Regions from separate parts of the Homo sapiens genome. Here region 1 is linked to region 2. The links come from fine-mapping of genetic effects on plasma protein levels. A gene starts in region 2. The other region holds a variant in brackets. All regions are shown on one strand. Distances are between the middles of the regions.

What was found. PIP is the posterior inclusion probability: the model's chance that the variant is causal. Protein levels are from antibody-based Olink assays in UK Biobank. Linkage for the fine-mapping came from a reference panel and not from the study's own genotypes, which makes the PIPs less certain.
Region 1: its variant is fine-mapped to the plasma level of the BIRC2 protein (UK Biobank, PIP above 0.99). The variant lies in the coding sequence of BIRC2. If it changes the protein, the assay may bind it differently, which can mimic a change of level.

The regions. Positions count from the first base shown.
Region 1 is chr11:102,375,465-102,380,848 of GRCh38, reverse strand. It overlaps BIRC2 (baculoviral IAP repeat containing 2), which reads right to left. Exons shown (of 9, transcript NM_001166.5): 7 at 3,099-3,353; 8 at 2,951-2,992; 9 at 2,179-2,859. The coding sequence ends at 2,666. Among named protein-coding and RNA genes, the nearest start is that of BIRC2, 31 kb to the right of the region's middle. RefSeq lists an enhancer at 5,309-5,384. The variant T/C (reference allele first, on the strand shown) is at 3,174.
Region 2 is chr11:102,345,037-102,350,420 of GRCh38, reverse strand. BIRC2 (baculoviral IAP repeat containing 2) reads right to left here and starts at 3,207. Exons shown (of 9, transcript NM_001166.5): 1 at 3,045-3,207; 2 at 1-1,823. The coding sequence starts at 566. RefSeq lists an enhancer at 2,586-2,655.

The DNA.
Region 1 (5,384 bases), 30 kb before region 2:
TACTAAAAATATTAGCCAGGCGTGGTGACGGGTGCCTGTAATCCCAGCTACTCAGGAGGCTGAGGCAGGAGAATCACTTGTACCCAGGAGGCGGAGGTTGCAGTGAGGTGAGATTGTATCATTGCACTCCAGCCTGGGCAACAAGAATGAGACTCCATCTCAAAAACAAACAAACAAAAACTGAAGTATGGTTTAGCAAGAGATTTAAAAAAAAAAATGTAAATGTTCTGGAGCCACTTCCACCTGGACTGTATACAATTCACACTCTACCACTTGTTATCTCTAGCAAATTACATGGTTTCACTGGGCCTCAATTTCCACATTTGTATTATAAAAAAGAGATAACATGTTTCCTACAGTTTTAAGGATTATGGAAGGCAATAAAAAACCTAACAAAGCATCTGACATTCATCTGTCTGCTCAACATAATGAGCACCTGCTAGGACACTGATTATCATCATTAAGAGGGCAAAAAAGATAAGAGACTAAAACCCTAATCTCAAATCCAGGTCCATTTGAGAAGTTTGCAAGCAGATAAAGTATAAATTACACTATGTTTAGTTATATTTTTTGCATTATTTTTACTGAATGTGAAAAACACAGACGTCTTTAAACTGACTAGCTGAATAAAGCCAAATAAGGTAACTCTTTTATAAATAGATAAAAATCATAAGTTGCTACAGTTATACTAGATGGCAGCCCATGTTAACTTTTAAAAATGTAAGTATAGCTTATTAGGACAGTTTGTTAAAAAAGCACAAGCTAAGGAGCCAGGCAGATCTGTGTTCAAATCTTACTTTGCAAAATTGCTGAAAGGATCAGAGCCGATGTGCTTTAAAGTATCTATTAACGGCAGTTTGTATTACTTGGCTAAGGCTGCCACAACAAAGTACCAATGACTGGGTGGCTTAAACAACAGAAATTTATTTTCTTACAGTTCTGGAAGCTAGAAGTCCAAGATCAAGGTGTTGGCAGGTTTGGATTCTTCTGAGGCCTCTTCCTCGGGTGTCTTCACATAGTCACTCCTCTGTGCATCTGTATCCTAATCCCCTTTTCTTAGAGAACACCAATCATGTTGATTAGCAGTCAACTATATCATCTCATTTTACCTTATTTGCCTCTTTTAACAACCCTATTTCCAAATACAGGTACATTCTGAGGTACTGGCAATTAGGACTTCAACATACAAATTTGCGGGGAACACAACTGAACCTACAGCACATCTCAATTGTTTAACGCATTTAGCACTGTATCTGGCAAATGGGATCCTTGATAGAGTAGCTATTATAAGCAAAATAAGAAAAAAGAGAATAGTTTTTAAAAAGATGTAATAGTATCCTGTGACAACAAGGGGGATTAGTTTTATGACTTAAGACATATTGGGCTGTTCTGACTAAAGGACTTCTAATTTGATTCCTTGACGGAGCTAATTATCCCTTTGGCAATCACAAGTCCAGGATGAGAGGCAGAGAAAAGTTAACGTTTTAACATTGTTCTGAGTCTACTGAATTTGAGGGGGAGGAAAGAATTCCCTCTTTATATTCCCTCCATAATGGCCGGAGAGAGTTTCTCTCATGAGGTCTTGAACCTAGGTATATGCATTTGGACTTACATACATGTATCAGCATATCAGGATGGAAACAAAGGCAAGAGAAGAGACTGGGGTACACAGAAATTCTTACTCACTCTTCCCATGTGTTCTCTAAAGGAATCCAAAAGAGTTGTGAGGTGAGAAGAAAAATGGAGAGTTTTTACTATTAGACTTCCTTATCTACCTGGCTTCAGAAGTCTGCCACAGAGTGAGATCTAAGAAAGGTCAAATATGACTGGACCCAGAAAGGAGGTACTAACCATTCATTGCCTGTATGCCTCCTCACCCCATCAACACCTATGCAACAAAGCAATTACACTACTGTCTGAAAATAATGCCTATTTATCTAATTTAAGAGTTTTCTGAAATTAATGTTGGATTCATTTTTCATCCAACATTGTATCTATAACATACAAAGCAACAAGACACTGTCATCTAAAGAAATTTCACAGATAACATTATTTTAACAACACTTAATAATTTCTCATGAATGCAATTTTTTACTTAATAGCTGGCATTTGAGTACAAGGAAGACACATGAAAATTACTTTTTAAATCAGGAAAGAAAAAATATTCTGGTAACACAATCTTTTTAAAGCACTTTATTGAGATGTTTCTCACAAACTAGGGGGAGAAATAAGAGAAAAATCCTTATTTTAAAACACAAGTGAAAAGCACCAAAGACAATTCGGCACCATAACTCTGATGAACTCCAGAGTTCCTGGTTTCCAGTTCTTTTCTACACTATAATTTAGTATTCAAAGCTTTCTGAAAGAACAACAAATCCAGTAACTCCTGAAATGATGCATAACAAGCAGTGACACTACTCCCTTAGGTACACATACATACTAATATAGTTCACCAAACATAAATCTTCCCTTGTAAATAAACAGATTAAGATTAAATATATGATACCATCTTTTCAGAAACAAGATTATTAGTACCAAAGCAGACTAGAACATGAATGTTACTAATTGAAAAACTCATAATTCCCTTTTTACTTTAGATGGCTTCAAGTGTTCAACAATATTTTAAAGACCTTTTTATGCAGGTTAAAATATAGACTATTTTTCTTTAAGAGAGAAATGTACGAACAGTACCCTTGATTATACCCCTGCAAATAGGGCATTTTCTTAGAGAAGGGGCACATTCCTGGCATACTACCAGATGACCACAAGGAATAAATACAACAGAAACTTCTTTGTCCATACACACTTTACAAGTTCGTTCTTCTTGCAACCTCCTCAATTGTTCTTCCAGTGACAGACCTAATAACAAAAAATAACTTTAGTGAAATTGTTTCCACTTCATTAAAAAAAAAGGGTAATAGTTCATGTTGGTTTTAAATCTTTGTTTTACCTGAAACATCTTCTGTTGGAATATACTTCATATTCTTATCCACTGAGGAAAGAAAACATAAAAACCATTACTCTACTAAATACAAAACTGAGCCACCGCATCTGGCCAGTCCTAAGAATTTCTAAAATAATTTTCCCAACAAACTCACCAAATAAGTTCTTATACAATGTAGAGTCAATTTCTTTTAGACAGTTTTTGAAGATGTTGGCCGCAGCATTTCCTT[T/C]AACCAAAATGGTATCAATCAGTTCTCTCGCTTGTAAAGGTATCTGTGTTTTTTGTTTAATAATATCATGTTCCTGTTTATTAATTACATTGGCCTTTAAAAGATTATCCAGGATAGGAAGCACACATGTCAATTGTTGAAAGAGAGCCATTCTGTTCTTCCGAATTAATGACAAATCATCTTCATTAAAAAAAGAAAAAGAAATCCATTAGATTTTAAACTCCTTTAACTATACTCATATAGTCACTAATAACCAACCCTACAAACAATTTAGGCACTAAATAAAGTTCAAAAAAGAACAAAGTAACTTGTTTGCATTTGTAAGTTTGTTGTTTGGAAAACTTCCAGAGGAAGTCTCTGTTTAATTTTTAAGTCTATATATTTACATGTCCTAGAACTCCGCTTTTACTTTATTTTGTTGCAAGAGATTTGTAGAAGACAGTAAAAATTTCCCCCCACCATATATAATAATACTCTTGTATTTCCATTATATCATTTTACTTTTGTAAGCACTTTCATAGTAATTTGTCTCATTTGATACAGTGATCCTGTCAATTAAACAAGGCGAGTATTACTGCCTCTCATTTTTACATAGGGAGAAAAAAGACTCAGAAAAGAATGAGTGGCCTAAGATCACAAGAAAGAATAAGCTGCAGAACCAGGCATCCTAGACCAGTGTTCTTTTCAACACCCCATACTTAAGACGTGGTATTGTAGTATTGTAGGGTTTGAGTTGCCAAGTCAAAACAGACCTAGGTTCCAGTGTTGGCTAGGCCCACTCACTAGCTATGTGTCCTCATCCTTCCCCATACACCTCAGTTTCCTCATCTGTAAAATATACATAACGGTACCTTCCTCAAAGTTGTAAGGATTGAATAATACATGTAAAGCATCTGGCACAATATGTGGTACATAGTTAACTACCATTATTATTTTATAAATGTCTATGTTTATAGCAATTAAAAAAAACTACCTAAGAATCAAGCCTGACCTTTTTTTAAAAAGCCAATGTTTTTCCTTTAATATCGCATCACATAAAACTCCACAGTTAATTTATATTTATGGAATATGGTAGTTCCTTCTTTTGGTATCTGAATCATTATAAAATTTGTCTATTTTCAGACTTTCAAAAAAATTTAAAAAGTACATCTCTACAAAGTACCAGTTTAATGAGAAATAAATTATAAAAACAGAAGCCTATCTTCTTTCCCCTTTTACATCTCTCTAGAAGTGAACTGCTCTATTAATCTCAAAACTATAAAATTCCATTCTGTGACAACTTTTTCTTCTACCTAAATAATTCCTCTCACTGCTAACCAATTTGTTCTTCACCTTTTCAAGATCTCCATGTCATTCCCAATTCTACTTGCACAAGAGCTATCTCCTGGCTTTGCTTCAAACCTCCTATTCTAATCTAGGTAGCAGTCAGGTATTTCAATGAAGTTCTCTATATTAGCACCCTTAACTCATCTTCCGTATTCCTTACTTGCCCTTTCCCCTATTAACACTGCCAAATCTGTAATTCAATACTATTTTCCAACCCATACAAAGTATGAGAAAGTCATAAATCTAAGGTGACAGTGATTTCATATAACCTTAGCTGGATTTCATTACTACTTAACAATCCTTAAATTGACTTTTCTTAGGCCCTTTCTTTCACCAAGTCCCTCCCACTTCCCAAGTCAATCTACCTAATGCTTAAAAAAAAAAAAAAATTGACGTGCTAGGAGCTGTGTTAAAGTGTTTTATTTGCAATATCTCATTTAATTCCTACAGCAACCCTATGGGAGTCATACTATTATTATCCCCATTTTACAGATGAGAAAGCCGATGTCTGGTTGAATAAATAGCCAAGCTAGTAACTGATAGAACTGGAATTTTTTTTTTTTTTTTTTTGAGATGGAGTCTGGCTCTGTCACCCAGGCTGGAGTGCAGGGGCACGATCTCGGCTCACTGCAAGCTCTGCCTCCCGGGTTCACGCCATTCTCCTGCCTCAGCCTCCCGAATAGCTGGGACTACAGGCATCCGCCACCATGCCCGGCTAATTTTTTGTATTTTTAGTCAAGACGGGGTTTCATCGTGTTAGCCAGGATGGTCTCAATTTCCTGACCTTGTGATCCGCCCGTCTTGGCCTCCCAAAGTGCTGGGATTACAGGCATGAGCCACCGCGCCCAGCCTGGAGCTAGAATTTAAACACAAATCTGTTTCAAT
Region 2 (5,384 bases):
AGAAATCTGGCTTCTTCAGTACTCATTGCATAACTGTAGGGGTTAGTCCTCGATGAAGAGATGTCTTCAACTGCTCTAGAATTAAGAGGGTTTGGAGAAAGGCTGGAGTAAGAACCACTGAACAAGCTACTATGTTCCAAGGTGGGAGATAATGAATGTGCAAAACTGTTTCTCATTGGAGACGTATTCTTAGAGGTGGATCCCAGACTAGCTGAAACCAGATTCTGAATAAAGCTACAGCTAGGATATAGCTGTTTATGCTTTTGAATAGGACTGTCTCCTAGTTTCCAGTTATCCAGCATCAGGCCACAACAGAAGCATTTGACCTTGTCATTCACACCAGTATAATAAAAACCAGCACGAGCAAGACTCCTTTCTGAGACAGGCACCCCGGCGGGGAAAGTTGAATATGTAGACATTCTGTAGAGTTCACAGGAAAAGTCATACTTCATTTTTTGTTTGTTGCTGTTTGTCCAATCTGACAAGATCGTGCTATCTTCCATTATACTCTTAATGTTTTGATACGAGGGACCTGGGAAAAGTCTTTGGGAGGCAGTTTTGTGCATGAGTAGGTGACAGTACTGTTTGATAGCTAAAACATTCACATGAAATTTCTTCACATGAACTAAGATTTTTACCACAAAAAGAAATCAATGATAGACTCTTATGTAGAATTTACTACACTTTCTTTACTGGATTTATCTCAGTTTATATTCAGGTAGGATGAGTATCTCTCTGAATTACCAAGATACTACTTAGAACACAACTCTTTGGGGTTGTAGTAACTCTTTCAGGTAACCTAAGTGCTATTTGTTCATAATCTTGAGTAATACTAACTTAAAGCCCTGAAAGGTGGATGCACTTCTGAAAATATTAAAACTCCTTGATTTTTCACAGAGATTTATATTAACAAAATTCTAAGCAACTATAGAATACCTAAATTATGCCTTTTATTTATATTTGGTTACAAGCTATGAAGCCTGAATAACAGACCAATTACTGATTATGCCACAAGGTAAAAAATTATATGCAGGCTTCTTTCCCTATAAGCACTTTAACATGACAACCCAAAAAATCTCATTTTATTCCAATAAACAAAAGTAATTAAAACCTTCATATGGTCACACTATTTAAAAGCTAAGTTCACACAGCTTATCATCATAGTATTTACTTAAGTGGGCTAAATTACTTCAGCTGACAACTTTTGGGGGAAGTCAATACCCACAAGCTTTGTTGAACCTGTGCCTGCTATAGTGCTTGATGTCAAATGAATTTGGCTTAAAGTTCAAAAACTGTAAACTCTATCTTTGTTAAATATCATTTGTATTTGTTTCCATTTCCTGCAGCATCATGTTGACTTTCTTCCTAACTTTGTATACCACTATTATTCTTGATCAACTGAAGGTATTTTCTCCATAAACTTAGTTAGCCATAAAATTTCCACAGCACACTTTTTACACTGCATTTAAAAACTAAATAACCTGTTCATCATTTAAGGACTATTCAGCTATAATTATCAGTCATGTTGTAAACATTAATCAATTTATCACAAGATAAAACTTGTCCTTTCTAGTGTTATCAGAAACGCCTAACAAAATATTGTACTACCAAAAAAGTACTGCTTAGCATAAAGTATCAGTAATCAACTCTACTAGCCTTCTTTCTGAAAACTCTTCAATGTTTTAAAAATATAATTCATACACAAAATTACACTCCATAGAATTCAAACTATATCCCTTTATAAAGTTTCGAGATCTCCATAATGGGATTTATTACTGCAGGGGGACAAAATAGGGATAGGGAGATTCTTCAGGGTTGTAAATCTGAAAAGAAAAAACAAAAAGTATTTTAGAAAACTGTATGTGCATGCCAAATAGAACTTACATACTCTTCAATTTATTCAGTAAAGTCTAAGAATAATTCACACTTTAGATAATACATCTTAATTCCAGCAATTTGTCACAACTTTCTAAATGAAAAAGCTATTAATTAAAATAAGTAAATGCAACATACTCCCCATAGCACTAACTATACGTGTCTTTAAAACGCACAACTTCAGAGACAGATGGAAATTTTCACACAGGAAACATTTTGTCCTTGCTCTCCTCCCCTTTTCTGGCCTAAAGGTAACTCTGGCACTCTGCTGGAGGCAAAGGCACATTGGTTAAAAAGACAGACAGACACTCCACTACACCCTGTCAGCAGCAGTACAGCAGGAATTAAGACAGCAACGTTAGTTTGTAATATCAAGTCTCTCCACGACTAGGAAAACTGCAGTAAAATGCACCACGAGTTCATTAATATAAACTCTTAAACTCTGCCATTCCCTTACAATTTCAAAGCAACGACCACAGAAAGCAACTCGAAAACAAAACCTAACACAGTGGCCTGTGAAACAGTGGCTCCGGCACTACGACCACTGGCATGATTGCTTTAATTACACCCGGTCTTATATCCTATCTTTAAATGAAAGATTTTTATCTACGTGCACCGCACTGCTGCATTCTCTTTACGCAAATTGCAGCTGGGCAGGGGATAGGATGGAAGGGAAAAGAATAGAAACTATGGGATTTACCCAATAATTTCCCAGAGTTGCTTCTCACAATACACAACAGACGACTACTGGAATGACAGAGCGCAGTGGCAACTATGAAATATGAAATATCGCCGCCACCGAAATATCTTCGTTTCAATGTATTACATTAAAAGAACGCCGAGGGCTAAGTTTAAAACCTTGCAAAAACTGCGAGAAAACATCTTGGTCAAAGTCCAAGGGCCAGAAGAGTGGGCGGCGGCCAGAGGCTTGAAAACAAGTCATTTTAAAAATCGCTTTGACTGCAAGTCTCGAAGTTGGGGCTTCCGAATCCAATAAAACCTTGGCGAGAGTAGAAAGCAGAGAGCCCCCGGCGACCCTCGACCCTTGGCCGAAGGGCCTCAGGCCCCGTCCTTCCTCGTTCGCCGCCACATCAGGGAAGTGGGCCCCCGCGGGCCCTCGCGTCCCCACCCGCCCCACGCCGCCCGAGCCCGGAAGGAGCAGCACTCACCGCAGTGCGGGCGCAGCAAACACGGAAGCTGCGCGGCTGCCTAGAGGCCTCCGCAGAGCCGGGAATCAGCGGCGCCGACAAGGAGATACGGCCCGCTCGGCTCGGATCAGCCCGGGCGCTCCCGAAGCCCGCCGCCCCATCCGGGCTCACTCTGACGCACGATGACGTCAGCGCGCCCGGCCGAGGACCAGCGTTAGCCGCCGCGCGAGGGCGCCCGGGAGGCTGGGGCCGGAAAGCGGAACCGAGAGCGCTTTCCGCCGTGCGGCGATGAACCTCCGGGAAAGACGCTGGGAGGCCAGGATGCCCGGCGCAACTGGACGCTCATCGGGAGTCACGGGGTCGGCCCTCAGGGGAACGGGGACTATCCGTATCAACTCGGTGTTTGTTCGTTTTCTTCACCTTGCGGTTTGTGCCCTCTCCACATTTCCTCTCTGTGTCTACCATTCTCCTGGGGGACGTGGCAAACCGTGAGCCGCTGCGTTTGAGTTTTGGGAAACCCTGCGGAAACGCCCTGGCGCCGGTGGTTTTGCGCGTCCTACCCTGTGTCACCTCAGGGTTATGATCTGGCCCCTGGCAAGGCTCCCCAAGTGTGATGCCTCCCCCCGTCCAGATGACTGCATTTTGAGGATGGAGTCAGTCTGGTGGCATTTTTTGCTTAAGTAAACAATTGTAACCGTTTGTGTAGCATCAGCGTTCAACAGCTGCCTGTGCAAATCGAAAAAAGCGAAACTTTGGAAACTAGGAAGCATCAGATGAATAATTCTGAAGACTTGATGTCAACGGGAGTATCTTGTTTTTAAACTTTTGGTTTTCTGTTCTGGAGACAAACAGTTCATATGCACTAAAGAAAAAAGTGTCATTATTTCAGATGCTCATTGCCAGCAAAGAGAACTGTATTGCAAGTCAGGCTTCACTCCCAGTATTTTCTGAATGTTTCAATAAAATGAAATATATACGTCTGCCTGTGTATTGGTGTACATGCACATATAATTGTACATAAACCAGAGAGGAGCCCAATTTTTTTTAATGCTTAGGTAATAGAAAATTTGTAAATAAAAACCCTTGGCTTTTGCTAGTCATGGACCTTTTGTATCCCCCCGCCATACTCCCCCAATAGTGCCATAGACACAGTGTCGTGCAGTAAATGTTTGTGGTATGACAACCAACGAACGACTTTTGAAGTTGACGCTCTTTGCCCGTTGAATCCGATGCTTGCTTCTCTCTGGGGAACTCCAAGGGGCAAATATTTAAAAAACTTCCAAATAGCAAGCCACTTAATTAGGGAGCCGGGGGAATTCCAAGACCCTGAACCATTTCCCATTTCCTGTCTGTGTCATTTCTGCCTGCCAGTCAGTCACAGAACAGGAGGTCTACTGTTCCAATGTTAATAGTCAAAGAAAGTGAGTGTAACAGTTTGTAATACAGAGAAAAGAAATGCCATGGCTCCCAATGACTAAAAACTTCCAAAAATGCACCTGGGGCTTGGTAGTAGTTTAGTATTTAGTTCAAGTCACTATTTCTCGGAAGGTTTACAGAACATTCCTAACACATGTGGGAAAATATATATAGCAAGAATTGTTCATTCTGAACTCAAGATTATTTCTCTTTTTCAGTTCTTGTCCTGACCAAAGCAGTAAGATAATGAATATACTTAAGTATAGGGGAAAGCTTGCATTTCAAAAACTCAAAAGCCTTAGATATTTTTAACAAAAAATATTTGTAATATTTACATATAATAAATAGTACCTCATAACTTTTAATCTTGTATAACTTTGTAGTCTAGTGTTACAGCTAGTTAATTCAGTTACCTGTTTATTCAGTTAATTTTTTTTCATTTTGCTAGTATAAAGTTGCTGTTAATCTTAAAAAAATAAGCTATGTATGTCTGCTGCAGTTGCCCTTCTAACGTTTTTCACATTTATGTAGAAAAAAAATTTACAGTATTTAAAACAATTTTGAAGAAGAAAAGTAAGATTGGAAGGTCTTGTCCTACCAGGTAATGAGTTACAATAAAGCCATAGTAATTGAGACAGTCTTGTATTATTAAACGCCCTAAGATGGACAATTAAAGGAAGGAGATACAGAGCCCCAAGAAGAGACCCATATCTATGTATTTGGGAATTTGATATACTGGCATTATGTATTAATGAGAAAATGATTAATTACTCAATAAGTAATGCTGAATGAATGGTTATTCTAATGGAAAATAAAATTAGATCACTACCATATACTATTTAAAAATCTCTGCCGGATTTTTTTTAAAAACCCTCAAAAGTAAACAGCCATCATTATGAATCCAGGGATTTAAAGAAGTTTGGTGAGTTGTAATCCACTGTAGCT